Linked DNA regions of Homo sapiens. The protein of the gene in region 3 interacts with the protein of the main gene of each other region in a biochemical or structural test. Each region holds a gene or a part of one and is shown on either strand. Other genes may lie near its edges.

Region 1 (8,191 bases), on a different chromosome or scaffold from region 3:
TAATCACTTTAAAAAGGAGCACTTCCAACAACATTCAGTGGACAAATTTTTTAAGATCTGCTATTGCTGAACTAGGTGCTGAAAATCCTCAGATGAAAAAAAAAAAACAAAACACCTATTCCCAAGACAGACTGAAATGTGAACAGAAAATAACAGCACCATGTGAGAAGTGTGCTTGGGTGAGTGACGGAGGGCTTCCCGGAAGAGGCTATGTGCTTCATGGGGAAGGAGTAGGAGCAGACCAAGTAGAAGGGGACCAGACAGGGGAGGACACGGAGGTATGAGGAAGCACAATTTCTATGAGGGGACTATTTGAAATACTTCTGTAACAGTTAAAAAAAAAAAAGTTATAATAAAAGGGAGGGGCCAGGTACCTGTGAGAGCAGTGGGTTTTGGATTTTTTCCAAAAGGTGGGGAACCACTGAAGAATTCCAGCAGGGAGATGATGTGAAAGGGGTAAATGGGAAGTAGTGGGGAGAATGACACCACCAGTATTCCTGAGTGGGGAAGTGAGAGCTGGGTGGTTGGAGCCCACACCCACCCCTCTCCATTTATTTAGTCATTCAACAAATAGTTACTGAGGGCCTGCCACCTACCAGGCTGTATTCCAGGGGCTGGAAATCAGGCAACCAACAGCACTGGCAAGATCTTTGTTCTCATGGAGACTGACAATAGATAAGCAAGTAAACATGCAAGGAAATATTAGATAGGTGCCACTAGGAAAATTAAACCAGGCAACAGAAGAGTCTCTGAGCGGCAGCGGCCCATTCCCTGCCCCCAACACTTACCAAGCCTCCTCTTGATATAACTTTGGTTTCCCAAGGAGGCGTTGCTCCTAGAACAATCTCTATGGTAAATATTAATAATTAAGCCATCTCTCGGAGTGTTTCCAATGAGCCTTCCCTGGGTGAGGATAGTCAGAGCTAGTTTTCCCCAGGGCCTGGTCTGCCTTGTAATTGTTGGTTAAGGACCATCAATTCTGCCAAAAGTCCTAAGTTTAAGGTTTTAGGAAAATCGCGGCAACCTTGAGACCTTTCCTGAAGTGGTTCCCCTGCAATATATGACCTTGCCCTCCCCTCACTACCGACCCCACTTCCATGTATATACACAATTATCCTTTAGGAGAGAAACATTTGATAGTACGGTTGCAATTTTGCATTCCTCCCCTTTGAAAAATGCAAACTTTTAGAACAGGCCCGCCGCTTCGGGCAGGTTTTGCCGCGGAAACCACCCTCCCTCCCCGCCCCCGGATGTCCAGAGGGCTGGGTGGGGAATCCCGGGAGCAGCGCACTCAAGAGCACGGGAGCTGGAGGCTGGAGGCTGGCTCGTCACCATCAGGGCTCCCTGGGATGTAAGTCAGAGCTCCTCAGTGCCAGAGGGATGCGGGCCAAGAATAAAAACGCGAATGTTGTATTAAATGCAGCTGAAGAAACGAGGGACTGAAAAGGCAGATTTCCCAGTGTGCCTCATGGTCTTCCCCCATTTGACTCATTTACTCACTGCGGGTTTCTTTTTCTCCACTCTTTTCTTATTATGGAAACTTTCAAAGACACAGGAAAGTTCACTATTTTAGGGAAATCTAGCAAACGCCCCAGGAGGGCCTCTCTGATTTTGCCCAACTTCTCTGGACTGCCTGATAGAGCTTGCCCTCTGGGGACTATCACAATCGGGACTAAATTAGGGCCCCTGCTCCCAAGGGTTTTTATTCTAGCTGGGGAGAGAAGTCACTAATGGAAACTTTTTTTTCCCTTAAAATAGCTTACACCTTACAAAGCACTTTCACATTCCTGATTCCGTTAAAATCATAAAGCTAGAACTGAAAGGAAATTTAGAGATCATCTCTAGGGGTCAAATATTGGCAAATATTGGGCCACCTGCTAGGCTCTTGCCCATGGTAGACATGGCTAACATACCGCACACTCACCCGTTCATGTCATGTATTCACTTACTTATCAGACATCCTCCATGTTCTACATTGCATGTTAGAAATAAAGCAGAAAACCAGACAGACTTGTTTGCTACCTTATGGACAAACAAGAGGAAGAGAGACATTAAACAAATAATTACACGCATGAAGAGTGTTTTTAGGCCGGGCGCGGTGACTCATGCCCGTAATCCTAGCACTTTGGGAGGCCTAGGCGGGAGGATCTCTTGAGCCCAGGATTTCGAGACCAGCCTGGGCAATATAGGAGACACTGTTTTTTTTTTTGTTTTGTTTTTTGTTTTAAGTGTTTTTAAAAGCCGGTGTTGGGGCAGACAAGGACATCACACACTGGGAGGTACCCTGCGGGTGGGAAAGGGTCGGGAAAGACTCCCTCAGGAAGTGATGTTTAAACTGAAGTCTAGGGGATTAGGAAACGGAGTCTCTGAGAGGGTGAAGAAATATTACATACCAGTATGAAGCATGGCCTGAGTGAGGTCATGCTCCAGGGCCGAACAAGGGGTTATGGATGCTAAGTGGGGGTGGGTGTCCGGAGGAAACAGAAGGTTGGTGGAGCAAGGCCTTAAAGACAAATAGGTTGACATGGAGAGATGGGTGGAAGAACTTGAGCCAAGGGCAGATATTATTGTTTCTCCTCCTCCCGCTTCCCAGGGAAGCAGCTCTCATCTAGTGTCAGTAAAAACAAATACAAAGTTATAATTTATTGGCCACCTAGTATGTGGTGGCAATTTTCATGAATTCTCACATGTTCCTTGCGAGACAAGTATTCTTCTTCCAGTTTTACAGATCTAGAAAAGGCTTGGAACGGCTAGAGACGCTTGCTAAGCCTGGCCGTCAAGTAGGCAGCAGAGCTAAGATTTGAAAGCATGCCGGCCTGCCTTCCTAGGCAGACGCACTTTCCACAACGCATCACTGCCATAAAAATCCCAGGCCGAGGCTTGCTCTAACAGCAAATACCACTTGGAAAAGGACAGATCTTTGAGGACCCAGAAATACTTCTGGGGAAAGGATGAGCAGAGGTGCCCCCGGTGGGTGGATACCATTAGGCAGAGGTCTATGCGGAAGAGGCCGACTTGTGGCGTGGGAGGTAGGGAGGAGTAAGAAGTGATTGACGGGGCGTCCCTGGCTGCTCTAGGACTGCATTGCGGGGAGGTGCCCGGCTCTAACCACTGCCCGGCCCGGTTAATCATTTCCTGACCTTCCTTCCTCCTCTCGCTCTGGCCGCAGGATTGCCACATCAGTCTTCCCCCTCCTCCTGCTCGCCTTCTGGCCCCGAGGCTCCTTCGCCGGGTTTTACAAGGAGCCCCAACTTGGAAGCAATATTTGTAATAGCCCCGGACGTCCTCAAGTGCCCCAGTGAGATCGCAGGCTCGATCCAGGGTATGCCGGCCCAAGCGGCCCCTTGAGGCTTGCCCTCTTCTCTAATCCCTCACTAAAAAGAGGTCAGAGGGTCAGGGATCCAATCTCCATACAGATCAACAAGTTACAGACTCGGTTTCCCCCTGCGGTAAAAAGGGGATGGTAACAGCTGGTAGGGTGTTGCGAGGCTTAAATGCGGTATGGGAAGTGCCTGGCTGGGAGACCTTAGGTATCTAACAAATGCTAGATCCCTTCCCTTCTTATCGCCTGGTAATGGGGAGTTTAGCTTGCCCAGCAATCCCAGGCTACGTTTATCTCACTTGAACTTCCTGGCTTGAAAGTCCTACGATGTGCTGGAGGTAACGCAGATGGTGAGTCACAGTGACAGGATTTGAACGTGGGTTCATGGGCGCCCCTGCGGGCCCACCCACGCAGCATCTAGGTGGCTGGCTAACGCCACGTGTTCAGAACCTAGAAAGGGCTACGGATCGCACCTGCCGCAAGGAGCCTAACGCTAAGTCGGGCGGGACTGCCCTGGCACCCATGAAACCCGCTGCCCGCCTCCCCCGGGGCCAGGCCCTTGGCCTCCCCAGCTTGTTTCTTCGTGTATAAAATGAGGGCCACGGTGCCTGTCTGCCCGAGAGGTTTTAAAGTTCTTCTTTACACTTTGCGGAGCGGCCGGATTTTTACCACGAAGCCACCGAGTAGTCCGCACCACATAGGTTCAGTATCCTCCGCCCACCGCAGGAAACGCCGCGGACGGCCCGGGGTGCCCTGCTCGGCGCCCCACCCTTCCCGGGGCCGGGGAAGCGGCGTGACTAGGAAAGTCACTTCGGAACACAGCCGGACTCTGCGCCACCAGCTGGAGCTCGCCGGGACCCCACCCCGCGGGCTGGGCGGGGGCGGACCCGGGGGCGGGGCGGGGAGGGGCCGGCCTGGAAAGGCGGAAGCCTCCAGTCTAGGGGTGGCTGCAGAACCCGGATCTCGGAGTTACACGTTCTACGGAGCGGGGCGCCGGGAGACGGCGGGCGAGAAAACCCGGCGTCCGGAAGCCCGTGCTTTCTTTGACGCAAGGGCTCGAGACGCAGCCGCCGTCGGCCGAGCGCCCGGCTAGAAGCGACACCAGACGGAGCCTCCGGAGTTCCTCCGCCCCCACCTCGCCGGGTCCTGGAGCCGCAGTCCTCCCAGCTGCCCTCCTCGTGGCCATGGAGTGTCCACACCTGAGCTCCAGCGTCTGCATTGCTCCGGACTCAGCCAAGTTCCCCAACGGCTCCCCGTCGTCCTGGTGCTGCAGCGGTGAGTGCGGCCACGGGCCGGCCCCGCAGCGCACCCGAGGCCGCGGCTCTGCCGGGCCTGCCGTCTAGGGGCCGCAGGCGGCCGGCGCGCGGACTCGGGGAGGGGCGAGGGCGAGCCGGGCCCGGCGGGCTGGGGAGGGTACGCGATGAGGCGGGCGCGTGCGGGAGCGGCGGCGGCTCCTTTGTTTCCCGAGGCCCGACGGCCGGGCCAGCGAAGGAGAGGGCCGCGAGGGGCGGGAGTCCGCGGAGGCCTCGAGCGCGTGGGGGCAGCGGCAGGCGGGGACCCTGGCCAGCTGCGTGCGCCCTTGCCCCGCCCTGCCGTGGCCGGGGGCTGTGCCCGTCCGTGTTGCGGGGTCGCCTGTGGGGCGGGTGTCCGGCCCCCGAGGGGCGGCCGCACGTGTGGCGGGGCCCGCGCCGCGCTTCTCCGCAGACAGGGCGGGAAGAGCGCCGCTCTCCGGGCGCAGCTTTGTCTGGGCTGCGGGGCGCGCGGGGCTCCTCTCCTCCGCCGAACCCGGCCCGGGTTTCCTTTCCCTTCTCCGCAGGCTCGGGCACCTCGAAACCCCGAGAGGCGCTGGGAGCTCGGGCGGCGGAGGTCGGGGTCTTTCATCCGTCAGGGATGGTGAAGTTTGAAAACAGGCTGCGGGCTGAGAAGCTCGGAGGCTGAGCCAACAGCTGCTTTGGAGGGGACTGCTCGAGTTTGTTTTTCAGACCTTTTGGGTTGTCCGAAAATGCGTTGGGATTCCCAGTTCCTGTGTTGTGAAACACTTATTAGATTTATATAAGGCTTTTGAGTAGCTTAAGCGTTTTAACTCCTGCTGGCCCCCTTGGAAGCCCCAGTGCCCTCTCATTGTCTGCTCTAAGCGACTTCTTAGGATCGCACCGGCCACACGGCTTTGCTTACTTCCTGGTAGGGCCCTGGTGCCACCGCTAGTCTTTGTTTATTAGCTTTGAGATGGTCACTGGTATCTTGGGTTATATTAATAGCGTACAATTCGAATTGTGCACTTCAGAAATCTGAAGTTCATTTGAAGAAATATAGAAAAACGGCAATGGTATGATTTAGCTGTGACATGTCTCATTGTGGGCCGGAGCTGGGAAGATAGTTTAGAGAATGCCTTAGCACTTTTGACAGCTTACTACTTAAATAGTGATTATGTTCTTGGAAACAACATCGGTAGGTCCACAAAGAAAAATGTACTCTGGGATAAGGAATAGAAATAACTGCGGTTTCCTGGCGCGCTCAGACGTCTGATGCTTTGCTTGCCTTTGTAAAGTCAGGTATCTTTTTCTGCATGAAGCCTTTGAAAATTAACGGTTAATTGGTTTCACAGAGCAGTATTGCAGTTCTTTTGTGAGGATGCAGAAACTTGTGTAAATTAGCTTTTACCTGTAAATCTGTCGGGATGTTGAGTATAGAACAACAAATAAGGTGTATGGCACTGCTTTACAAATTGGTTGGTGGTGGTACATTAGCTATAACTGTAGCCATTGCTGTGGTGCTATAATTGTAACTTAATTTTTTTCCCAAAAGAAATTTGAAGAAAAAAAAAAAGACCAAAGTAAACACTAGGAGAAGCCTACCTCACAGGGAATGGTGGGATTGCTCTTGCTCATCTGTAGTAAACTACAGAAAGACAACATGGACAATTAGCACACTTCTGGCATTTTTTAGGTAAAATCACATCAAACTTAAAAATGGCTTCACTGGGCACATACATCTAAAAAATGGAAAAGAACTGTGCAAGTGGCAGATGCCCTCTTGTGAGTCAGTCTTGCCTCTGTCAGTCAGGGAGTCCACTTGACTGTGAAAAAGAGATGCAGGAAATTGAGCATCTCTTGAGGAACTTAATAAGTTAAAATGGAGCATAACGAGATGTGCTGATAACAAGAATAAACTAGTATGTGGGGTGATTTCTGTTCAAGGGGTAGGATGACATCTTTGCATCTTGCAACAAAGTGTGTCTGACATATAGCTTTGCAAGCCTGGGTCTAGTCACTTACTTGGATTTGTAGAACCAATAAAGCGAGTTTCGCAACTTTGTGTGAGTCCACACTCTGAATTGAACCCATTTTATGTAGGCCTCCCGTCTTAACCCGTTGGCATCCATTTGTTGATATAATCTAGCGTTATTGTATTAAGCTTGATCTTGTTCTTGCGTGCCTGTCGTTTCAGTGATTAAATGATGAATCTGTGAGTCCTTAACTAACTCATTATCTTGGAGTGTTATATAGTCGTATTTTTTTTCTCCCACACTCTTGATTTTATTTTATTTTTGTTTTTTTCATAGGGGACCAAAAGGGTAGCCGATGTGTTGACTAATACTGTGACTGGGTATTGAATCTGATTATGTTCTTATTAAGGAGGGGAAAATCCCTGTTTTGGCACTGGGACAATAAAAGTAATGCCCTTGCCTTATTTTCTTTGCGAGTTTGCAATTATACCACGGTAAGACAGCCAAGCAAATTGCAAAATGCCACAACATTCTAGGTTCTACCAGTTAGCAGTACCTAATTGGACAAATAGTTCTATTTTCTTTGAGTATCAGTTTCCTTATATAATCTGCAAAGAAAAGGGTAATACTTTGCATTTACTTCACAGGTTGCTGTTAGGATGAACAAGGTAATTTTTTGTGAAAACTTTGAGAAACTTGTATACACTGTTCTAGTAATAGGTGGTATTAGAGGTCAGAACATCTTTGTAAAGAGGACTCTGAATAATTAAATATCCAAAGCCCATTAAATGGGGACTAGAACAGACTGGCTTTATGCTGAATGATGCTTTACAGGGAGATACAGAACTCAACAAGATTACAAGAAGTAAGAAGTAATTATACTTCAGAATTAGCATGAGCTTCTTATCCATGGAAGGCACTGTGTGTTGGGTTATATAATTGTGTATGACAGTGGTTCTTACACTTTTTGATCTTAGGACCCCTTTACACTCTTAAAAATTGTTGAGCACCTGAAGAGCCTTCGTGTAGCTTATATCTGTTGATGATGTTTATTAGAAATTAAAACTGAGAAAAACTTAAAATATGTATTTATTAATATGCTTACAAATAATAATAGACCCACACCCATAACATAAATTGACAGTTTATGTAAAATGTTTTTCAAAACAAAAATTTAGTGGGAAGAATGGCATTATTTTGCCTTTTTGTAACTCTTTGTTCAGCTTTATAGAAGACAGCTGGATTCTTACATTGCTTCTGCATTCAGTCTCTTGAGATGTCACATCATGCAGCCTCAGGAACACCCCACTGCATGCTTGTGAGAGAATGACTGTAAACAAAAGTAACATCTTAAATATTATGTATGAAAATTGTTTTGACCTTCTGGATCCCCTGAATGGGTCCTGGAAACTTTCAGGGGTCCAGGACCACACTTTGAGAACCCACTTGTGTAAGCTATAGTTAACAGTTAAGGATACCTGCTCATATCAAAATAACTTTAAAAAATTAGAGAAATCCTTAAGGCTACCAACGTTTATGTTTCTGTAGAGACCTGAGGTTTTTGAAATGTATTAGCTGGGAAATAGAGCATGGGCTCTAGTAGTCCTTTGCTGCCAAAAAAGTTAACAGTCTAATCTAGCTGG
Region 2 (8,145 bases), on a different chromosome or scaffold from region 3:
ATCTCCAAGATATGCCTATATTTAGATTAACATATTGAAACTCCTTTAATGAGAATGGGGATAGGGTTCTAGTTTTATGTAGTTTGTTTATTACTAAATTTGTTTAAATGATGTTTGACATATTAGTGTGTTATGCTGTCATAATAGCAGAGTTTAATTCTGTTTATGACATTATTTTCTTCCTTTCTCCTACTCTTGTTTGACTTTATGATCCAGCTTTATTTTTTTTTTTTTAACTTCTTTCAATTAACGAGCACACATTGTGTGGAAGGTGCAGAAAGTACACCCACAAAGTCCCTGCTATGAAGAGCTTGCAGCTGGATAGGGAAGCAGCTGTGTGCTCGAATTTCAGAGCAAAGTGCATTTCTTTCTGTTAATGCTCTTCTAAGCAATGAGGCAGAGTTGTACGGCTTTTAATGTTCAAAAGAGACTTAGCCACCATCCCTAACACTGGGAAAATGTCTGGGCAGAGGGGAGAGCCTACGGGACCATTGAGATCTGGTGGGAACAAAGAATAGTTGTGTAATTGACTATGGTGGGAAGCTCATTTTAATAGCAGACTGGGACTAGTAGAAGATGTTGATAGAGTTGGCTTACGGCAAGAAGGTCAGCCTGAGTTCTGAATGAGTGAAGGTGAACATGGGAGGCAAAAAGTTTGAGAAATGGGAGGGTGAAAGGTGGTTCACCTTAAATGTGCCCACAGAGAAAGGTGGGAAGATGAGTGTATGCCGTTTATCCTCAGTAGGCTGTTTATGCTGTTTACATCGAAGGCAGAGGAGGTTAGAAAAGGAGAAAAGTTCTCTTCATGCTCTGAGCGTGGCCTGGCTGTGAAATAGTTTCAGTAATTCTCAATCTGGTTACTGATTTACAAAGTTGACTGAATATGTGATTGTTTTCCAGGTTGTGCTAGAATACTGATGGAGGGAATACAGAGGCAAATCTTGAAAAAAATTAGAGTGGGTTCAGAAGAAATTATATATTGGGCAAGTAATATTTCAGTATAAATGAGATTATATGTTTGGAAACTCCTAGTAACCTCCGAAGGGCAAAGTCAGTGTATTTGACAATACAACTCTCTGTGTGTATGTGTTCATGTACTTCCTCATAATCATTGAAAATCTTCCAGATCCCCTTCTAGCTCAGGCCCTCCTCATATCTTTTGGGTACTAGTTCAGCTTCTGCAGATTCAGGGACAAATTGCAATAATAGAATATACTTCAGTCTTGCTGTTGAGATAGTAAGAAATCATTATGAGGAGTCATCAAGGTAATCAGCAATTCGGAAATTTCTCACACCTGTTATAATGTGTCAAACCATATCTTCATGTTCATGGTTTAGCAATATGTGCTGTTGACAACATGAAATAAGTGAATTTAATTATAGAACTTAAAATGTAATATGTAAGACATTTAAAAAGCACAGGAAATAGAAAAACCCATGAACCTACCACCCACATCAAATGTTAATATTTTGCCTTATTGTGTATCTTTTCTCTTTTTGCTTTTGAAGCAGAATGGCTCATGCAGCTAAGGCACTCATGCCCCTCTTCGTCTCTCTGGAGAGAGAACTACTGTTTGGAGTTAAGTTTGTGTCAGTGCCATATTATTAAAAAAATTTTTTTTAACCATAGGTATATCTATCTACAAACTATATTTTAATGTTTAATGTTCTGCTGACTGAAGTTAAGAAATATTTTTAAAATTATTGTAGTTCTTCACATGATTCTCCACATGGAAAAATGTAATAATTTCATAATTTTTAATTTTAGTTAGCATGGTATTAGAAACATAGAAAACATATTTTTGGCGTAACGTTCTGACCTAATAACATAAATTGAAGTGGCTTTTAAGCTTTTTGTAATCTATAGAATGATGTGTGTTTTACATTTTGACCTAGTACCTATCATCTCTGTATGTATATATTTCTGTGATGTTTATATATAATACGGGAAAAGTTTCCCCAAACTAGTTTCCTGTACTGTGTGTGATTTATACTAGTCCCTTCGTATTTGTGGGGTGGGGTGTAGAGGTGGTTCCAAGACCTCACATGGATACTAAAAATCTATGGATACTTCAGCCCCTAATATAAAATGGGGTAGTATTTGCATATAATTCATACATATTCTACTGTATACTTCACATTGTCTGTAGATTACTTATACTACCTAATACCGTTCATTTAGGAAACAATGATAAGAAAAAATGTCTGTATGTATTCAGTACAGCCACATTTTTTTTTCCTGAATATTTTTTATTTGTGGTTGATTTAATCCATGAATCCAAAACTCAGGGCTATGAGAGCCAACTGTCCTCTGTTATTCTCTAGACTATTGACTTTTAAAATGCCTTTCTCAGGCTTAGTAAATTGATTTTTTGACCTAATAATAGATTGCCACCCATAATTTGAAAATCATTAAGAGTAATCTTAAATTTGATCTAATCATAATTAATCTAAAATTAAGACTGACTTTTAATATATAAGCACAAGCTTTTCCAGTATAATAAAGGTGTTTTAAATGATAGGTCAATACATTAAAATAACATTCTTTACACAAGATTTGATTATATTTATTTTAGCTAATTCATTAATTTTTGTAAATTAAGTCCGTGTATGTCTTACCCATTTAAAAATTAGATATTAATTAATTGAAGTGTTTTAGAGAATATGCGATGGTTAATGTAGAATATTTTCTTTCTGTCTATTCTTACCATGATTTACCTGGAGGGAAGGAGGGCCATCATTGTGTCAGGGAAGGGGAAGGAGCTCTTGAGCTCTTGCTGGCTTAGATGTTGACCCCCAAGCCCTGTCACCAGTGAACTCTGTACAGCCTTAGAAAACCCCTTCTTCCTTCTGGCTTTCAGTTTCCTCACTTATTAAATGAGGGTGTTATCTAGCTCATCTTGAAACTACTTTTATTCTGTGAAACATAAGGTAACTAGGACCTGGGCTTCAAGATATTAGAATCGGTTGAGAATATGAAAAGCTGATGAAAAAGAACAGGGCTTTCTGTTCGAATTACTGGTTTTGCTGTTATGTTTGAGCGAGGATTAAGCAGGTTGTATCCAGTTGAATATAGTTCTTGGGCAAGAATTATTCCTCCATTATAAAACCATTTCAAAATAATCTTGACCTCCCCAAGATCTCCCTCCCTTTTTGTGGCATTATCCCTCAGTCGTGAAGGACACAACTAATGTTGAGTGTATATGTGAACATACATAAGTGCAAAGAACGGCAAAGGAACGTTTTTCATTCTGTTTCAGTTAAGTGTCCTCATAGGCAAATCCAAAGCTTCGGAAAGAAATCTATCACTTTTCCTAAGCCCTGGGGAATGTTTCATGAGTCCTACTCAATTGCAGTAATCTGAGGCTTTGGGGAATTTCCTTTTTTTAACATGAATTACATGCTTGGAATAGAGTGAGAACATATCACCTAAACTACACGTCCTTAAAACAGCACTTTACATGATGAATCCTTCATGTTTTGTCTGTTTGTATGTTTACGAAGCAGGAGTTTAAATTGCAGCTTGGGGTAAACATGGATACCATTGTTTACCCCAAACCATTTCTTCAAGACCATTTCTTCCCATTTTGCTTCTGAGAAGACAGGTCAGGAAATGCCCTTGCCTGGCTCTTCAGGTGGAGGCAGAGTTGGGGCAGATTCCTGGTTTCCTTCAGGGTTCCCATTTTCTTTTGGTTTGTAGATTATTTTGGGGCAGCCCAAGGTTTAGAGGGACCTAGAGACCTAGTTCTAACTCATGTCCCTGGGGATTGACCCACTGAAGAATGTTTAAGAAATTAAGAATTTTTAAAGTAGAGCTCTGCCCCTACCTGAGGGACTAGTGAAAATATATTTTTTCTTGAAAGACGCCAGGGTAGACATAAATTGCTGGGAGAGGATCGTCTGAACCACAGGGAAGCATAGATTAGATTTCTTTTAACACCTCTAATTATGCAGTAACTCAGTTCTCTCTCAGTAGCAATATGCAAAGCATGACTGATACGTCTGTTATTTCAGCAGCACTTAACCCTCCATTTATAGAAGTGGATTGGAATTTCTAGACCTCTGGAATCTGATTCTGTAAATGTTCTCACCTCAGGCCAGGGGCCAAGGCTAACCAGTATTTTGTGACACCCTGTGCTTGGCACTAAGCAGGCACTATAGATTTTTGTGACTAAAGACTGCATACTTAACTAGTCACTATTTTATGCATTGAGAATTATAAAGTGTGTCATTCTGAAATATTAGAATTGATTTTTTTTAAAGTAAAAAAAAAAAATCCTTTCCTTTGTATGTTAAAGTATTACTAATGAGCCTTCCTGTCTGTTTTTCCTCCATCTACTCTAGTATGCCGAGATTTTGCTGTCCTGGAGGACCACACCCTGGCTCACAGCCTGCAGGAACAAGAGAGTGAGTAATACCTCTCATTTATGCTCCTTCAGTTTTCTTTTTTTAGTGGTAGCTTGAGGCTGGTTTCTTAGGGCTTAGGTGGGGAGAGAGCACAGTCACTTGGCTTCACCATCCATACATCCTGAAGGATTTCTTTAGGCAAATGATGCCTGGGTGATCAGTGAAGTTTCGGGCATGTTAAGTAAGATAGGCTGCCAGGAATTAGTAGACTGCTGCGTCTGTAGGAGGAAAAAGAGAGGTTTGAACCTTTTTCCTAGCCTCTTGTTGTAGGAGGGACACAATGGTTGTAGATTTATCTGGGGTGCGTAGAAGGAATCTATTCTTGCTCCTAGGATAGGGACTTGAACAGTTTTCCCAGGCAACTGTGGTATAAATGAGATCACATTGTGAATTTTTCTGAATCTTTTTTTCCATGTGGTGATGAAAAGTAAATCTAAGCTATGCATGTTATATTAAAGTACATACTTGTGAATATATGATTTGTGAATTCACATATCAATATAAAATTGACATTTTGAAAAATGCGGTTAATAAATAGAGTGACAACATGTAGTAGTAGAAAGAGCATTGGCCCTGGCTTTAGAATATTTGTGTAGATGTCCTGGCACTGCCACTTTGTTGCCGTGTGACCAAAGGCAAATTATTTAATCTTTTTGATCCTCTTTTTACTTAATGGAAAAGTGGGGATAATAATTCCTTGCTCTTTATTATATATTGTTGTTGAGACAATAAAATGAAGTGATGGATGCAAAGCTGTTGTTATGGTAAAGCTCTTAAGATTATTATGGCATTTATTACTAACAAACCAAGACATTATTCATTCCTGTCCTCAATCTTTTTGTTCCAGTTGAGCATCATTTGGCATCGAACGTTCAGCGGAACCGTTTGGTCCAGCATGATCTCCAGGTGGCTAAGCAGCTCCAAGAGGAAGATCTGAAAGCGCAGGCCCAGCTCCAGAAGCGCTACAAAGACCTGTGAGGATTTGGGAGGTGGGAGGGGTGATGCAAGACTGGTTTTCTCTGTGGAGCTAGCAACCAGGGCAGGGGAGAAGGAGACTACTTCTGTTCCTCTGATTCCTTCTACTGTTAGATTACAAATCTTACCCTGGATGTCTAACAGTTTTTTTGATTTGAAAATGTTTTGTTTTTGTTGGAGCACTTGACCAGGTTTAAGGACATGTTGATGATGGTGTGAATTTTAACATTTTTTAGCTGTTATGACCTTGGGCCAGTTAGTCAACTTCTCTGAATTTATTTTCCTTACCCATAACATGCGGATAATAATCTCTGTCCCCTCTGCCTCATAGTTTCTTTGGGGGATCCAGTGAAATAGTGGACATCAAATAACTTTATGGGTTGTATTGGTTCCTTTACTATGTTCTAGCTGTGTTTGCCGCTCTTACTTTCCTTGCTTTTCAGTACATAGCAGAATGTTCTGAAAAGCTCTGAAGTGTAGACTCAGTTTTTTTCATAACTTCAGTGTCTGACAAAAGTTCTCTCTAGTAGCCTCCTTTAACACACAGATAAACGGAAATGATTATTTCTCAGGTTTCTTTTGGCACAGTGACTTTTATTCTGTTTCAGTGTTATAAAGCTCCCAGGATACATTTCTTCTTTGAGAGTGGCTCTTACATCCTAAATCTTTAATGTGGGTAGATTTAACCACAGATACTGTGTTGAGGAGGAAGGGGTAAAGGAAAAATGGAAGGAACCCCTTAATTTACTTCAGTGTCATATTCAGGTAAAAAGGAAAGCCAGTCATTTTTGCTAACTTATAGGAAGGGTTTGTCTTTCTGTTTATTATTTGTAGAGAGGACTTTATTAATCATTTTGTTAAGCTTCCCTTATTTTGTAAATAAACACTTTTATTGATTCATGCTAAATCTGGCACCATGAAAGGAGACCAGAGATATGAATAAGACAGCTGTTGCCTTTAAGGGCCTCAGGAAAACACCTTGAGCATTGTGTATCTAGAGATACGTGCATGAGTCACAGAGAATTGAAATGTAAATTTCAGGCCTATTTAGAGAGAAGAGACTGGGAAAAGCTTCACAAGACGATGTGTTTAATCTGAAACTTGAAGGTTAATTAGAAGTTTATAGTGATGGGGAAAACCATTCTAGCCAGAAGGAGCAGCATGCATAAGGGCAGGAGGTAAGAGGACTTGGAATCAATCTCACGTTAGCTGCAAGAAGTTCAGTGTTGCTGGAGTGGAGAGTGTATTTACAGGCAGAAGTAGGAAGTGAGGCCAGGAAAGTAGTCAAAAGCTGGATCAAAAGGGTCACGATAAGTTATGTTAAAGATTTCAGGTTTTGTAGATTTTAAATTATAAGGAATGGAGAACCTTTGAAGTAGTTTCAGATTTTCATTTTGGGATCTATTCTGTAGACTAGGTGGGTAAAGGCTTGGAGTGGGCAAGATTTGAAGGCAGCTGTTGAGCAATGGTCAAATTAAGAGATGGTGAGGCTTGAATGAGGACAGTGGTGACAGAGAGGAAGGAGATGATGAGGCCTAAATTGAAGGTCATGGTAATGGAGATGTAAAGAGGAGGAGAGATATTTGAGATGTTATGAGGCTCAGTGTCACAGGTTAAGGTGAGAACCAAAGCTAGAATGTTCTAGAGTTCTAAATTCATTGCCCTTTACATTATTCACAATTCTCTGTTAGAAAGGCCAGTTCTGAGGTTGATGCAGATGTTTAAAATCCTGAATTAGGTTAATAACAGTATAATGAGCTTTTTCAGAAATTATCAAGACAAACCACTCAAATATAAATCAGGAGTAGAGAGTGATATTTTATAGGTCCTAAAGGAGAGAAGAACCGGGTATTATATTTCTGCCTGAGACTTCAAGGTTTTGAAATTGTTCCTGGATGAAATAAGTAAGCTAGAAGGGAAGTCTTTCAGTTCACTCCCTGGCAATTTTAATAGCTGTACATCTTGGGAAGGATGAAATGCTGCAGTTTTCATTGAACTGGAACCTTTTATTCAGTCTGGATACCCGGGCTGCCGTAAGTCAGGATTACCGCTTGTTTACTACTGCTTTCTCAGTTTCGCTTTCCCAGGAGTCTGTATAATTAGCTGACTGAACCAGAGATGGTACTTCTTGGAAATATGGTTTGAAATCATTAAACTCAGATGAAGCTTCACTTATTTATTTTCTGTACCAGGAGATACATCTTCTGTGTCACTTGTGACCTTTAACACTTCATTTGGGTTTGCCTTCTCTACGGTGCTTCTACTTTCTTCCCACTTATTATCACATCCAATGTAGTTATTAGTCAATTAATTCTATACAGATTTTACATTAATTTGGGAGGTTCAGGTAGAGGCTTGAATGAAGACAGAGGCTTTTGAAAACTAAGTCCGTGATTTTGTGTATGATTCTTAATTATTACAATGAGTGAAGGAAAAGAAGAAATATAAATAGCAATTGGTCTGAGTAGATTTTTGTTTATTTTCATTTCTTTGGTTTGAATAGATAAGAATACTATGATATTAGACCTGTAATGTGAAGTTACTAAGTGTACACTTTTTTATAGCTTATAACATGGCATGACAGAGAATGATTTGTGGTTATTAGTGGTAGAGGCAGGACCGTCAAACAGGCCCCAGTGGGGTGAAGTGATAGGTGGTATAGAAGAGGTGTGGAGTTTTCCATTGTTGGGTGTGATGATCAGATTCCAGTTCTACCACATATTTTCGTTGTGATCTTGAGAAAATGATGCAACTTCCCTGGAC
Region 3 (6,540 bases):
GGTTTATCCTGTTTGGAGCTTGTTCAGCTTCTTGAATCCTGGTTGATGTAGCTTGTTAAATTTGGGATATATTTGGAGGTCATTTCTGTGAATACTTTTTAAGCCCTGCTCTTTCTTCACTCCTTGCAGAACTCCAGTGCCATGACATCATTTTTTATAGTCCTACGGGTCCTTGAGACTTTGCGCTTTTTTTTTCCCCAGTGTATTTTTTTGTTGTTCAGATTGGGTAATTTCTGTTGTTCTTTCAGTTCACTGACTCTTTTCTTTGTCCCTTCCATTCTGCTATGGAAAGCCCATCCATTGAACTTTTTATTTTGGTTGTATCTTTCAGTTCTAAACTTTATGTCTTCCATTTCATTGTTGAGCCTTTATGTTTTCTCTTTATGTTTCAAAAGTATTTATAATTGCCCATCGAAGCATCTTTATTAGGTGCTTTAAAATCTTTCTCTTCTCAGTGTTGGCATCTATGATTGTCTTTTTTTTTCATTCAGTTTGAGATCTTTCTGTTTATTGGTATGAAGAGTTTTATAATATCATGTCCATGGTTCTAAGTTGGACCATGTTCTTAGCCAAGGCCTAGATTTTGAATTAGAATACAATCATACTATACATATGCAACAATATTCCCTGTGGCTGAAGGGGAGAGAGAAAAAAGGTTTTAGATGTTGGGGGCTGTATTAGTCTGTTTTCATGCCACTGACAAAGACATAACCGAGATTGGGAAAACAAAGAGGTTTAATTGGACTTACAGTTCCACATGGCTGGGGAGGCCTCAGAATCACGGAGGGAGGCAGAAGGCACTTCTTACATGGCAGCGGCAAGAGAAAAATGAGGAAGAAGCAAAAGTGGAAACGCTGATAAACCCATCAGGTCTTGTGAGACACAATCACTATCATAAGAATAGCACAGGAAAGACTGGCCCCCCATGATTCAATTACCTCCCCCTGGGTCCCTCCCATAACACGTGGGAATTCTGTTAAGATACAATTCAAGTTGAGATTTGGGTGAGGACACAGCCAAACCATATCAGGGGCTCTTCTGCCTGTTGTATCACTCACTGAGTTTGTGCCTGCAAATGGATATAATTATGCCTGAAACAGCGCATATTGTATATCTGGTACAGGTTTTGTTTTTTTTCCCAAGTTTTGCCAAACACTAAAGTAGAAAGCATAGTTCATATGACTATTCTATGGACATCTTTAGTGCTTTTATGAGCATTTTTGATGAAGAAATTGAAAGACTAATTGGAGGCCACAATTAAGCATTGACTAATACTAAGTTAGGAGAACCAATAAAATCTGTGATTTTACAAAGTCAGGTACCATATGTTCATGGAAGTTGTATATGAATGATTATACATGTGCGTGCATGTATATGTATTGTACGTATCTGTGCCTGTTTCTTGCTATATATGTTGTACTCAAATTACATTTGCGGTCTTTCTTTTTGCATTAGATTCTGCATATACAGACTCATGAAAAATTCATCAGAGATAGTCAAGAAAAACCAAAACCTGTACCTGATAAGGAAAATAAAAAACTGCTCTGCAGAAAGTGCAAAGCCTTGGCATGTTACACAGCTGACGTAAGAGTGATAGAGGTAAGCTGCCTTTTTACAAAGTGCCTGGTCATGTTTTAGCACTAGCTACAGCTTACTGTTGGTGAAATATTTATAATAAAACTACTATTATTTCCATTGTTACTGTGGCCATGATCTGTGTATTTAAAAAAAGCTAAGAAGTGAAAAAAAAATACTAAATGTTCAATAATAAAGAAATAGTTTTTGGCCAGGCATAGTGGCTCATGCCTGTAATCAAAACACTTTGGGAGGCCAAGGTGGGCGATCACGAGGTCAGGAGTTCGAGACCAGCCCGGCCAACATGGTGAAACCCCGTCTCTACTAAAAATAAAAAAGTTAGCTGGGCGTAGTGGCAGGTGGCTGTAATCTTAGTTACTCGGGAGGCTGAGGCAGGAGAATCGCTTGAACCGGGAGGCAGAGGTTGCGGTGAGCTGATATCGCGCCACTGCGCTCCAGCCTGGGTGACAGAGCAAGACTCTGTCTCAAAAAAAAAAAAAAAAAAGTCATGCTAAATGCAATGACGTGTCCTGGATTAGCTCCTGGAACAGATAAAGGATACAACTAGAGAAAGAGTGGTAAAATCTGTAGTTTAGATAATAGTAATGTACTGATGTTAATTATCTTGGTTTTGACAAATGTGCTGTGGTATATGAGATGTTAACATTTGGGGAAACTGGGTAAAGGGTATGCAGAAATTTTCTGGGATATCTTTGCAATTTTTCTTTAAATCTAAAATTGTTCCAAAGTAAAGTTTATTTTAAAAAATTATGAAGTTTATGTAGTATAATGAAAAACTGCTTACAAACTAATGGTAATAAGGAAAAAAGTAACCAGAACACAGAATTGTAAAGATGCTACTTTGTAGCTGTGTGAAACAACAGCAGCAAATACATTCATTGTCATTGTCAAGAGAAAAAGTCAAAAAACCTACCTTGCTACAGAAAAACAAAGGCTAGGGGAACTATACCAAAATGTATTAATATTTTGGTGGTGAGATTCCATGACTTTTTTTCTCTTTTCCTACTACCTTATGTTTTCCAAACATTCCTTTTGGGCTATGGATCACTTTTATAATGAAAACAAAATATCTCCTTATTTGTAAAATGTGACATCTGCAGATTAGCCTTCTATTGCAGCCTTATATTTCTTTCTTAAAACTTTCAGAGAAAGGGTTAGAAAAATCTCCAAAGAGAAATATGGGGTATAACTCTTGCATGGGGGGCACAGTGGAGGGGCTGGGCTGGCTCAGATGAGGAGTTATTACTTCAGGATGTTCCGTTCGTCTTCAGAAAGCAGAAATCTCTCATCAGCTCAGCTGTTTGGGCAAAAAGCCTATTAGGAGTCATATTGCTAAGTTCCCTTACCTTTCTAAGTCTGCTTCTTTAGCTGTAAAAGGTCCTTTCAGCTCCAATTTGGGTGATTGTTCTACTAAAAATGGCCCTTTTAGACCCTATGTTTTCCTGAGGGACTAGTATGTTGGATCTGCATTTGTTTCTGAGCTGTTTACTCTAAAGTTGACTCTAGGTGGGGCCTGTGGACACATTAGTCCCTGACCTTCTTCAATTGCATCTTGACCTTGGTCGTTTTCCCTGTATCCTTTGGATTGTGCCTGCCAGGGCCACTGGTGAACTTCAGCTTCACAAATTTTCAGCAAACATCGCTTCTGTTTTTGAATAATGAGTATCTACCTTCAGAAGCTGGGTTACCTGGAACCTTCTTAATCTTCTTCTTTATGAGGTGCCCAGTGTCCTCACTTGCAACCCCACCCTGCCTGTAGAGGGGAGTCAGGTGCATGGATCCTCTGGACTTTGGGTGAATCTATTTTTTTTTTTCCTCCAATTGTAAAATAAGTGAGACCCACCTGTTCTTTGCCTCAGATTATTGTGGGGTTTTCTTTTTTTTTTTTTTAAATCACAATTATGTACTGGTTCTAACGTTCTCTTTTGTGTGTTATTCCATCCCTTCATCTGTAGGAATGCCATTACACTGTGCTTGGAGATGCTTTTAAGGAATGCTTTGTGAGTAGACCACATCCCAAGCCAAAGCAGTTTTCAAGTTTTGAAAAAAGAGCAAAGATATTCTGTGCCCGACAGAACTGCAGCCATGACTGGGGAATCCATGTGAAGTACAAGACATTTGAGATTCCAGTTATAAAAATTGAAAGTTTTGTGGTGGAGGATATTGCAACTGGAGTTCAGACACTGTACTCGAAGTGGAAGGACTTTCATTTTGAGAAGATACCATTTGATCCAGCAGAAATGTCCAAATGATATCAGGTCCTCAATCTTCAGCTACAGGGAATGAGTAACTTTGAGTGGAGAAGAAACAAACATAGTGGGTATAATCATGGATCGCTTGTACCCCTGTGAAAATATATTTTTTAAAAATATCTTTAGCAGTTTGTACTATATTATATATGCAAAGCACAAATGAGTGAATCACAGCACTGAGTATTTTGTAGGCCAACAGAGCTCATAGTACTTGGGAAAAATTAAAAAGCCTCATTTCTAGCCTTCTTTTTAGAGTCAACTGCCAACAAACACACAGTAATCACTCTGTACACACTGGGATAGATGAATGAATGGAATGTTGGGAATTTTTATCTCCCTTTGTCTCCTTAACCTACTGTAAACTGGCTTTTGCCCTTAACAATCTACTGAAATTGTTCTTTTGAAGGTTACCAGTGACTCTGGTTGCCAAATCCACTGGGCACTTCTTAACCTTCTATTTGACCTCTGCGCATTTGGCCCTGTTGAGCACTCTTCTTGAAGCTCTCCCTGGGCTTCTCTCTCTTCTAGTTCTATTCTAGTCTTTTTTTATTGAGTCCTCCTCTTTGCTGATCCCTTCCAAGGGTTCAATATATATACATGTATATACTGTACATATGTATATGTAACTAATATACATACATACAGGTATGTATATGTAATGGTTATATGTACTCATGTTCCTGGTGTAGCAACGTGTGGTATGGCTACACAGAGAACATGAGAACATAAAGCCATTTTTATGCTTACTACTAAAAGCTGTCCACTGTAGAGTTGCTGTATGTAGCAATGTGTATCCACTCTACAGTGGTCAGCTTTTAGTAGAGAGCATAAAAATGATAAAATACTTCTTGAAAACTTAGTTTACTATACATCTTGCCCTATTAATATGTTCTCTTAACGTGTGCCATTGTTCTCTTTGACCATTTTCCTATAATGATGTTGATGTTCAACACCTGGACTGAATGTCTGTTCTCAGATCCCTTGGATGTTACAGATGAGGCAGTCTGACTGTCCTTTCTACTTGAAAGATTAGAATATGTATCCAAATGGCATTCACGTGTCACTTAGCAAGGTTTGCTGATGCTTCAAAGAGCTTAGTTTGCGGTTTCCTGGACGTGGAAACAAGTATCTGAGTTCCCTGGAGATCAACGGGATGAGGTGTTACAGCTGCCTCCCTCTTCATGCAATCTGGTGAGCAGTGGTGCAGGCGGGGAGCCAGAGAAACTTGCCAGTTATATAACTTCTCTTTGGCTTTTCTTCATCTGTAAAACAAGGATAATACTGAACTGTAAGGGTTAGTGGAGAGTTTTTAATTAAAAGAATGTGTGAAAAGTACATGACACAGTAGTTGCTTGATAATAGTTACTAGTAGTAGTATTCTTACTAAGACCCAATACAAATGGATTATTTAAACCAAGTTTATGAGTTGGTTTTTTTTCATTTTCTATTTGTATTTTATTAAGAGTGTCTTTTCTTATGTGATTTTTTTTAATTGCTATTTGATATGGTTTGGCTATATGTCCCCACCCAAATCTCATCTTGAATTATAATCCCCATGTGTCAAGGGAGGGACCTGACGGGAGGTGATTGGATCACGGGGGCAGTTGTCCCCATGCTGTTCTTGGGATAGTGAGTTAGTTCTCATGAGATCTGATGGTTTTATAAGTGTTTGACAATTCCTCCTTTACACACACTCTCTCTCTCATCTGCTGCCATGTAAGACTTGCCTGCTTCCCCTTCTGCCATGATTGTAAGTTTCCTGAGGCCTCCTCAGCCATGTGGAACTGTGAATCTATTAAGCCTCTTTTCTTTATAAATGACCCAGTCTCAGGCAGTTCTTTATAGCAGTGTGAAAACAGACTAATACACTATTGTTTAAGAACTCCAATAGGATGTGTAAAACATCTACTAGAAATAGATTTAATAAGATAAAAGTTATTATTATTATTTTTTTTTCTGAGATGGAGTCTCACTCTGTTGCCCAGGTTGGAGTGTAGTGGTGTGATCTCGGCTCACTGCAACCTCTGCCTTCTAGGTTCAAGTGATTCTCCTGCCTCAGCCTCCCACATAGCTGGGTACAGGCACCCACCACCACACCCGGCTAAATTTTTTTATTTTTAGTAGAGTCGGGGTTTCACCATGTTGGCCAGGCTGGTCTTGAACTCCTGACCTCAAGTGATCCACTTGCCTCGGCCTCCCACAGTGTTGGGATTACAGGCGTGAGTCACCATGCCTGGCCAAGAAAAGTTCTTTTAAGTATGTAAATGATTCAATTTGGATGAAGGTGAATAGCCCTATTCAGCCAACTGAGGCAGGCAGACTGAAGTGAAAATAAATAAGGAGAACTTAGCATTTCCTTGTTTGACTTTTAATGGAATAATGTCATTGCCAGGCATGGACTCAAACAAAGTAGGCACTTGGTTAATATGTATTGAATGAAAGAAATGAGCAGGTAGGCTTTTAGGAAGTGGATCTTTTGACTGACTCCCAAATGCTGGTCATTGCATTTCTAGAACAAAGGCCACATTTTAGAAACAACTGGGGAGTCTTTTTCATGGACACATGCCCAGCCCCATTAGAGCATCCTGGCAGGGTGTCCAGCCGTGTATGTTTTGAAGCTCCTGTGGTTCAGACACAACCTGTTACACAACTACCACCTTGTTATCTCTGTGGTCCTGGCCTGTGCTGATGC
Region 4 (9,006 bases), on a different chromosome or scaffold from region 3:
GGTGGGAAATTGCTGCTTTGCTTTCCTGGAGAACCACAGACTAGGACCTGGGGGCATTGCTGGGTAGATTATGAACACCTTTGGCCAAGAGTTGCATCGATCCCCTAAAAAAACCTAGGTACTGGCCAGGCGCGGTGGCTCATGCCTATAATCCCAGCATTTTGGGAGGCCGAGGCAGGCGGATCACCTGAGGTCGGGAGTTCGAGACCAGCCTAACCAACATACGAAAAATACAAAATTAGCCAGGCGTGGTGGTGCATGCCTGTAATCCCAGCTACTCAGGAGGCTGAGGCAGGCGAATCACTTGAACCCGGTAGGCGGAGGTTGCGGTGAGCCGAGATTGCGCCATTGCACTCCAGCCCTGGGCAACAAGAGCAAAACTCTGTCTCAAAAAAAAAAAAAAAAAAAAATTCCTGTTACTGAGACTTCTAGGGTATCTGGACAGAAGAAGGCTAGATCTTCCAAGAATAAAAATTGCAGCCGGGGAGACAGAGCAAGATCCTGTCTCAAAAAAAAAATAAAAAGAAAACGCGAAGGCTTCATTTGCCCAATATACAATGCACGACTCTCAACACCTTCAAAGAATTACATGCCCCTCCCATGAAAACGCTTCTTTTTTTTTTTTTTTTTTTTTTTTGAGACGGAGTCTTGCTCTGTCGCCCAGGCTGGAGTGCAGTGGCGCGATCTCGGCTCACTGCAAGCTCCGCCTCCTGGCTTCACGCCATTCTCCTGCCTCAGCCTCCCAAGTGGCTGGGACTACAGGCGCCCGCCACCACGCCCAACTAATTTTTTGTATTTTTAGTAGAGACAGCATTTCACTGTGTTAGCCAGGATGGTCTCGATCTCCTGACCTCGTGATCCGCCTGCCTCGGCCTCCCAAAGTGCTGGGATTACAGGCGTGAGCCACCGTGCCTGGCCTGAAAATGCTTCTTATACAAAATTTAAAAGTTTGGGAAAATATTGTCACAATTTGTCTAATTCTGAAACATGACATGTTTACTTGGGGTTATTTATCGTTTTTTTGGTGGGAGGGCAGGGAACTGGGTCTCACCCTGTCACCCAGGCTGGAGTGCAGTGGCACAATCTCAGCTCACTGCAACCTCTGCCTCCCAGGCTCAAGCCATCCTCCTGCCTCAGCTTCCTGAATAGCTGGGACTACAAGTGCACTCCACTATGCCCAGCTAATTTTTGTACTTTTTGTAGAGATGGGGTTTTGCCATGTTACCCAGGCTGGTCTTGAACTCCTGAGCTCAAGTGATCTGCCTACCTTGGCCTCCCAAAGTGCTGGGATTACAGGCATGAGCCATGGCCCCCAGCCATTTATCATTTTTTACAACCATCCATGGTTACCATTCTCTGCTACATTATCGGGTCACACTTGGAGGCCCATGAAAGAGGGTGTCTTACTAAAGATGAAAGGAGGTGATTCAGGCCTTTTCCCCCATGCACCTCCACAGAATTGACTGCTTCTCTCCAGAGTGTTTCTCTAATGTTCACAAGGCCTTAAAATGAGGGGGCTCACGGAGTGTCTAAGAGGAAGCTGGAGTCAGGCAGTGGGAATAAAAAGAATCCCTTGACTCCTCAGAAGCTTTCCTAGGCCAGGCACGGTGGCTCCTGCCTGTAATCCCAGCACTTTGGGAGGCCAAGGCTGAGGGATTGCCTGAGTTCAAGAGTTTGAGACCAGCCTGGGCAACATGGCGAAACCCCAGAAAATTAGCCAGGCATGGTAGTATGCGCCTGTAGTCCCAGCTGGTCGGGAGGCTGAGGTGGGAGGATCGCTTGAGCCTGGGAGGTGGAAGTTGCAGTGAGCCGAGATGTCACCACTGCACCACTGGGTGACAGAGCAAGACCCTGTATAAAAAAATTAATTAATTTTAAAAAAAAGTTTTTCCGGAAGTTTAGTATTATTTTTTCCCTTTCCATGGAAGATTTTAAAACATATTTCTTTCTTTTCTTTTCTTTTGTCTTGCTCTGTTGCTCAGGCTAGTGTCTAGTGGCACAATCATAGCTCACTGCAGCCTTGAACACCTCAGCCTCTGGAGTAGCTGGGACTACAGGCATGTGCCGCCATGCCCAGCTGATGTTTATTTTTTGTAGAGATGGGGTCTTGCTATGTTGTCCAGGCTGGTCTCCAACTCCTGGCTCAAGCTCCTTCACCTCAACCTCTCAAAGTGCTGAGGTGTGAGCTACCACACCCATCCTAGAAACATATTTCTACCTCATATTTATCAAGTAGCTTTGAATATATGGCCCATCATCTTCTTTACTGTTTCAGTTTCTTCCTCAATAAACCAAACTAGTCTTCCTGACTCATGTGGAGCTGAGTCACCTGGTGGTGAGGGTGGAGGAGTGAGAGATCTAAATTTGGTTGACATGGTGTGAGAAATCAGCTTATCTTTCATAGAACCCTTCAGTCCAGGAAAATGCTGGGACTGAACCAATCATTTCAAAGATGCCCAGAACCAAAGCCCTTCTACCAACATATAACTCCCAATGTCAGCCATCAGTTGAGGTCCTGTGGCCACACTGGCCAGGAGGGACGAAGGGAGGAGAGTGTGAAGGGATACAGCAGTTTTTCGAAATTGGAGTCCTTAAGTGCCTCTGGAGATCTTATTGAATGCTTAAAATATCAGGCTTAAAATATAAATTGTTGCACCTGTAATCCTAGCTGCTCAGGAGGCTGAGGCAGGAGAATCACTTGAACCTGGGAGGCGAAGGCTGCAGTGAGCTGAGATCAAGCCACTGCACTCCAGCCTGGGCGACACAGAGCAAGACTCCGTTTCAAAAAAAGAAGAATTTCCATCATTCCTACCTTTAAGGGTGTTTTCCTTCCAAGAACCTCTAGTCCAAAGGCGAGTGGGACGGGAGGTGTTCCTCACTTCCCATCAATTTTCCCTTCAAAGGCTCTCCTTCTTTCACAGTCTGGCGCTGGAGGCAGTTAGCAGGAGAGCCTTAATAAAATTAGGATTACCCATCACATCTCTCCCCCGAGCCAATGAATAGAAAGAACAATAGTTACCATTATGCACACTTTTTTTTTTAAAGACTTTATTTTTCAGCGTAGTTTTAGGTTCACAGCAAAATTGAGAAGAAGGTACAGAGTTCTGATACACCCCCAGCCCCACACATGTATAGCCTCCCCCATTAATCCTAGCACTTGGGAGGCTGAAGCAGGCAGATAGCCTGAGCTCATGAGTTTGTGACCAGCCTGGGCAACGTGGCTAAACCCAGTCTCTACAAAAAAAAAAAAAAAAAAAAAATTAGCCGGGCATAGTGGTGAGTGCCTGTAGTGCCAGCTACTCAGGAGGCTGAGGTGGGAGGATGGCTTGAACCCAGGAGGTGGAGGTTGTAGTGAGCCAAGATCATGCAACTGCATTCAAACCTGGGCAACAGAACCAGACCTTGTCTCTAAATAAATAAAAACAACAACAAAAAAGAATATACACAGCCTATGTTCAAGGAAGAGTAACAACAAAAAGCTTCATGGCTGATGAATAGTGTGTGGTGAAGGGGAGTATTTGAGTATGAGGAAGACTGAAACAAATAAGGCTAGACTGAAACACTTTATTTTAATAGTTTTTTCTTTTTTCTTTTTGAAACAGAGTAGTCTCATTCTGTCGCCCAGGCTGGAGTGCAGTGGCACAATCACAGCTCACTGCAGCTGCATCCTCGACTTCTCGAACTCCAGTGATTCTCCCACCTCAGCCACCAGAGTAGCTGGGACCGCAGGTGCGCACCACCAGGCCCAGCTAATTTTTGTATTTTTTTTACAGGTGGCTTCACCATGTTGCCCAGGATGGTCTCAAACTCTTGAGCTCAAGCAATCTGCCCGCCTCAGCCTCCCGAAGTTTTGAGATTATAGGAGTGAGTCTAGACTGAAACATTTTGAATGCCACACTCTAGTTTACAGAACTTTATTCAGTAAACACTGGAGACCAACAAACGTTATCAAGCAAAGAAATGTTCAGATTTACATTTTACAGAGATAATTGTGACCAGAAGGGATGGACTTGAGAGTGAAATCAGAGCACTGTTTCTTTCAATAGCCGCATGAGAATTTGAGGGGTGGGGAAGACAAGGCACATTAAAATGAAAATTTCTGGGTCCACCCTTTATTGAATCAGAATCTCTGGGTTCAAGGCCTGGGAATCTGCATGTTACATCTCAAACATAGGAGTGATTCTTGTAGGCTCTGAAGTCTGAGCTATAGACTAGAATCAGAATGGCCAGTTAGGAAGCTTTTGCAATTATCCAATTAAGAAATGAAATGTCCTGGGTGCCATGGCTCATGCCTGTAATCCCAGCAATCTGGGAGGCTCAGGCGGGAGGATCACTTGAGTCCAGGAGTTCGAGACCAGCCTGAGCAACATAGTGAGGCCACTCATCTATACAAAACAATTAAAAAGTAGCTGGGCTTGGTGGCAGGCACCTGTGGTCCCAGTTTCTTGGGAGGCTAAGGTGGCAGGACTGCTTGGGCCCAGAAGTTGGAGGCTGCAGTAAGCTATTATTGCACCGCTGCACTCCAGCTGAGTGACAGAGCAAGACTCTAACTCAAAAAAGAAAAAGAGGGCCGGGAGCGGTGGCTCACGCCTATAATCCCAGCACTTTGGAAGGCTGAAGCAGGAGGATCACTTGAGGCCAGGAGTTCGAGAACAGCCTGTCCAACATGGCGAAACCCCGTCGCTATTAAAAATACAAAAATTATCTGGGCATGGTGGTAAGCGCCTGTAATCCCAGCTACTCAGGAGGCTGAGGCAGGAGAATCACCTGAACCCGAGAGGCAGAGGTTGCAGTGAGCTGAGATCGCGCCGCTGCACTCCAGCCTTGGCGATAGAGGCAGACTCTGCCTCCAAATACATAAGTAAATAAATAACAGATCTGTAGGCGGAAAACAATGTGGCAGTAATTGTTCCTTTGCCTTGGTGTCCCTGGGCAAAAGGCAGGCCCCCACTCCGGGGCATCGCTCGTCGCCGCTCCATTCTCTGCAGACCGAAGTTTCCCCAGGCCTGGGAAGACTAAGTGGGAGGCGCCCACCGTGCGAAGATCCTCCCGGCTTCCAGGGAAGGGAGGCTGGGCCTGCAAATAATAGCCGGGGGCAGGAGAAAGGCTCCGATTGGTCGGAGGGAGGGTGACGAACAAGGGGCGGAGTTTTCCTGGGGACTGGTGGGGGAAGTAAAAGGGAGGGGGTGTGCACCGCCGGGTGTCAGTTTCGGAACCCCAGCCAGCTCACCTCTGCGCCGCTGAACCCGATCCGAGCCTCCGGCAAAGGTTTTTCCCTCCTCCCCCGGCCGAGGGCTTCTGCAGCCCGGGCACCCCCGCCCCGCGGCGCCCCACATTCCCCCAGCCCGGGGCCCTTGGCGCGTGCGCTCCGTGCGGCTGTGCTCCGCGGGACTTTGTTTGTTTCCTCCTCGTCCCTCTTTGTTGGGCTGAACACCAGCCTCGTCAAAGCCCCCCACTCCGGAGGGAGTTCGGCTTCTCCAGCAGGGCGGCTGCAGCGCGCTGCCCCGACCCCGCCTGCGGCCCCTCACGCCGCTAGTGCTCCCACCCCGCCCTCCTGGCACCCCGCCTGCGTCCGTTCGCCCGAGGAAGCCAACCGCGACTTCATTGATGCACCCATTCCAGTGGTGTAACGGTGAGTCCCCGGGGCGAGGGCCGAGCCTACGTGGGGCTGGTGGGAGCCGCGGCGCGGGGTGCGAGGTCGGACAGCAGCGCGCTGGTCCTCCCTCGGGAACCAAGTTTCTCCTGAAATGGGACAGTCGAGAAGGCGTCTTGGCGCCCCACTCTGCTCTGCACAGCGCGGAATTTGAAACTATCCAGGTTTCACTCCAGAGCCTGGAAGGGGCCTCCGGACTGGCGGCGGGCCGGGGGCGTGGGAGCCGAGGGGTTCCCGGCCTTTGTGTGGCGGCCCGGCTCTTCTACCCCCTTCCCCTGCCTTTGTGCGCTCAAACTCTGTTCTTTGTTGTGGTTGTTGGAGGAGAATTAAATCCGCACTCGGGCTGGGATCTCCTAGAGGGAGCTCAAGTTCCCGGCCTGAAACTTTGCAGGCTATTGTAAATATGTATACCGTGCAGCGTGCGGGACTGGGCGCGGGGGTAGCTTCCTCTGGCTTTGTTGGTTTCCCACGGGCTGCTGGCGTGGCTTGGGTGCTTGCGGAAGACTGGATTAAAGAGTCGCTTTCGGCCAGGCGCGGTGGCTCACGCCTGTAATCCCAGCACTTTGGGAGGCCGAGGCGGGCGGATCACCTGAAGTCGGGAGTTCGAGACCAGCCTAACCAACATGGAGAAACTCCGTCTCTACTAAAAATACAAAATTAGCCGGGAGTGGTGGCGCATGCCTGTAAGCCCAGCTACTTGGGAGGCTGAGGCAGGAGAATCGCTTGAACCCAGGAGGCGGAGATTGCAGTGAGCCTAGATCGTGCCATTACACTCCAGCCTGGGCAACAAGAGCGAAACTCCATCTAAAAAAAAGCCGTTTTCCTGAGTTGATAAACCCTCGCAGAGAGCTCCGCGCCCGGCTGTCCCTGGGGTGCGAGGCTGGCCTGGCGGGAGCCGTGTTTCTGGCCACAAGGCCAGATTAGGGTGTCTGCTCCTGAGCCCAAGTGAAGGCCACACCTCCAGACGCGACAACCCCTCGCCCCATTTCTCCCCAGGCCTGGGTGATGCTTCTAAGTTAGTTCATTTCACCTGAGGCTTTTTGGAGGTTCAGGTGATACTGGGTTAGGCTGGAGTCTGATTCCTCAGCGAGCTACCTGAAAGGTAGGTGTTTCTGAGCGGGACACTTCAAAACCTTGGATACTAATCGCCCCCCACCCCACCCGCTCCAGTCCTCCTGGGGTCCTAGTCTTGACCGCGTTGTTCCGATGCTTGGAGAGTTTCTGGGAGAGAGAGATGGGAAGCAGCTGGCCTTATCTCTCAGTATGGCAAGCGAGCTAGTTACAGGGGGAAAAAAATCATTCTTTAGAGTAGACTCCTGCCAGATCTTGGATTAATTATGTCAAGAGGCTTTGTTTTGAGGCAGGGTTTGGGTAGCATGTATACCCCACATCCCCCCACCCCGCCTTCCTCCTTTTGCTGGTCGGATCTCATTTCCTGAAAATGAACCAAGCCGTGTGTGATAGGCGGTTTTGTGGGAGAGGGGGCAGAGGATGGGGGTTGAGGAAGGCCCTTGCACCCTAGCATCTGGGAAAGATTCCCGTTGGCTGGGAAAGAGAAGCAGTTCCCAGATCCCCTGGTCTTTCTTGGCCAGCCCTTGTCTGACGTCATTCCTGCTCCCAGCCTGCCAGATGAGATGAGACATTCTGATGTCAGTGCTTTCATAGGTTGGCCGAGACAATGGAACAGAGACTTAGGGAGAAATGAGGCAGCTGTCAGTAACACTGCCCTTTCTGGGCAGCGCCCTTTCATATCAGATTTTAGACTTGCTGCTTTATTTTTTTTATTTTTTATTTTTTATTTTTTTGAGACTGAGTTTCGCTCTTGTTGTCCAGGCTGGAGTGCAATGGTGTGATCTCGGCTCACCACAACCTCCGCCTCCCGGGTTCAAGCGGTTCTCCTGCCTCAGCTTCCCGAGTACCTGGGATTACAGGCATGTGCCACCATGGCCGGCTAATTTTGTATTTTTAGTAGAGAGGGGGTTTCTCCATGTTGTTCAGACTGGTCTTGAACTTTTGACCTCAGGTGATCTGCCCACCTCAGCCTCCCAAAGTGCTGGGATTACAGGCGTGAGCCACTGCGCCCAGCCTACTTTAATTTTTTTTTTGAGAGAGGGTCTCACTCCGACAACCATGCTGGAGTGCAGTGGCACGATCAGGGCTCACTGCGGCCTCCAACTCCCAGGCTGAAGGGATCCTCCTGCCTCAGCCTCCCAGCATAGCTGGAACCACAGGTGTGTGCAACCATACCTGGCTACTGGCTAATTTTTAATTAATTAATTAATTAATCTACTTTTTGGGGATAGGGTTTCACTACATTGCCTATGCTGGTCTTGAACTCCTGGGCTCAAGCAGTCCTCCCACCACGGACTCTCAAAATGCTGGAATTACCTGCAGGAGCCACCTTGTCTGGCCCTCTTTGCACTTCTTAGAAAAGTGACTGAGAGATCCTGTCCTTTGACTCCTGTGAAGAAGCAACCCTTCCCTCACCCCTTCAGAAACTACCTGGAGCCCCTCTTTCCTGGGGCTGGTATTCTCTGTCCTTATACAGTTTTAAAGAAAAACTTACTACAGTGTCAGCTTTTGACCAGTAGACTATTTTGCCATTTCTTTAATAGTAACACAAGCAAATGAACCATCTCCTCTTGACTATGCTCTTCCCACCGACCTCTTTATCACGTGAAATACCAAGCTCACTGATTCAATCAGTGGGAGATAAAGGGGAAGCCTTTATCAGGCAGGATAAGTTGGTGGGGATAAACTGATCAGAGGACTTGCGGGGACCATCGTGCTTGTGGAGTGCACAGATATCCTCTGTAATAGCTCTGACCAGGTTCTGCAAGTTCCCAGAACTGGAAACCAAAGGAGGTTTCAGCTCATAAAAGGTGCCTGGAAGAACTAAGGAAACGGGGGGTTAGACCCTCTTGTAACATCAAATAGTGCGGGGGAAGGAGGTGAGAAAACAGCTGGGAGCACCAGGTCTTGTTGGAAGGGAAGTCCTGAGCCCCTTTTCCAGCATAGACTGAAGTTTGTCACTCTAGCCAGTCTGCCATGATGTCCTCATGGAAAATTGTTCTTCTTTGACCCACAGAAAGTAAATATTTGGGTGGGGACTGGTGGTGAAAAGCACTTTCTCTCTAACCCCTACTAGAGCCTAGACACAAGGAACTTCCTGTTGGGCACAGCAAAGTTTAGTAGCTAATTATTTCTTTCATTTCAACTTAATCAAAAAGTCTTTCACAACAAGAACTTCTACTTTCTGTTTTCCCACAATGTGTAGGTCAGTGCATAAAGCAAGCCCTCAATAATACTTGCTGGTTGACTGGTGATCCATTAGCGGAGGGCAGTTTCTGGGC

The links.
Region 1: of the proteins of RIGI (region 3) and USP3, one has a biochemical effect on the other in vitro, tested with the Homo sapiens proteins (one study listed by BioGRID).
Region 2: the proteins of RIGI (region 3) and CCDC50 form a complex in vitro, tested with the Homo sapiens proteins (one study listed by BioGRID).
Region 4: the proteins of RIGI (region 3) and RNF122 form a complex in vitro, tested with the Homo sapiens proteins (one study listed by BioGRID).

The regions. Positions count from the first base shown.
Region 1 is NC_000015.10:63,500,234-63,508,424, forward strand, and holds the start of USP3 (ubiquitin carboxyl-terminal hydrolase 3), read left to right. Parts: upstream 1-4,359; 5' UTR 4,360-4,506; coding exon 4,507-4,597; intron 4,598-5,484; exon of another isoform or gene 5,485-5,503; intron 5,504-8,191. UniProt on the Homo sapiens protein: Deubiquitinase that plays a role in several cellular processes including transcriptional regulation, cell cycle progression or innate immunity.
Region 2 is NC_000003.12:191,352,744-191,360,888, forward strand, and holds part of CCDC50 (coiled-coil domain-containing protein 50 long isoform), read left to right. Parts: intron 1-4,344; coding exon 4,345-4,407; intron 4,408-5,254; coding exon 5,255-5,381; intron 5,382-8,145.
Region 3 is NC_000009.12:32,454,430-32,460,969, reverse strand, and holds the end of RIGI (antiviral innate immune response receptor RIG-I), read left to right. Parts: exon of another isoform or gene 1-1,455; coding exon 1,456-1,599; exon of another isoform or gene 1,600-1,928; intron 1,929-3,551; coding exon 3,552-3,848; 3' UTR 3,849-5,668; downstream 5,669-6,540.
Region 4 is NC_000008.11:33,563,325-33,572,330, reverse strand, and holds the start of RNF122 (RING finger protein 122), read left to right. Parts: upstream 1-5,202; 5' UTR 5,203-5,607; coding exon 5,608-5,632; intron 5,633-6,425; exon of another isoform or gene 6,426-6,755; intron 6,756-9,006. UniProt on the Homo sapiens protein: May induce necrosis and apoptosis. May play a role in cell viability.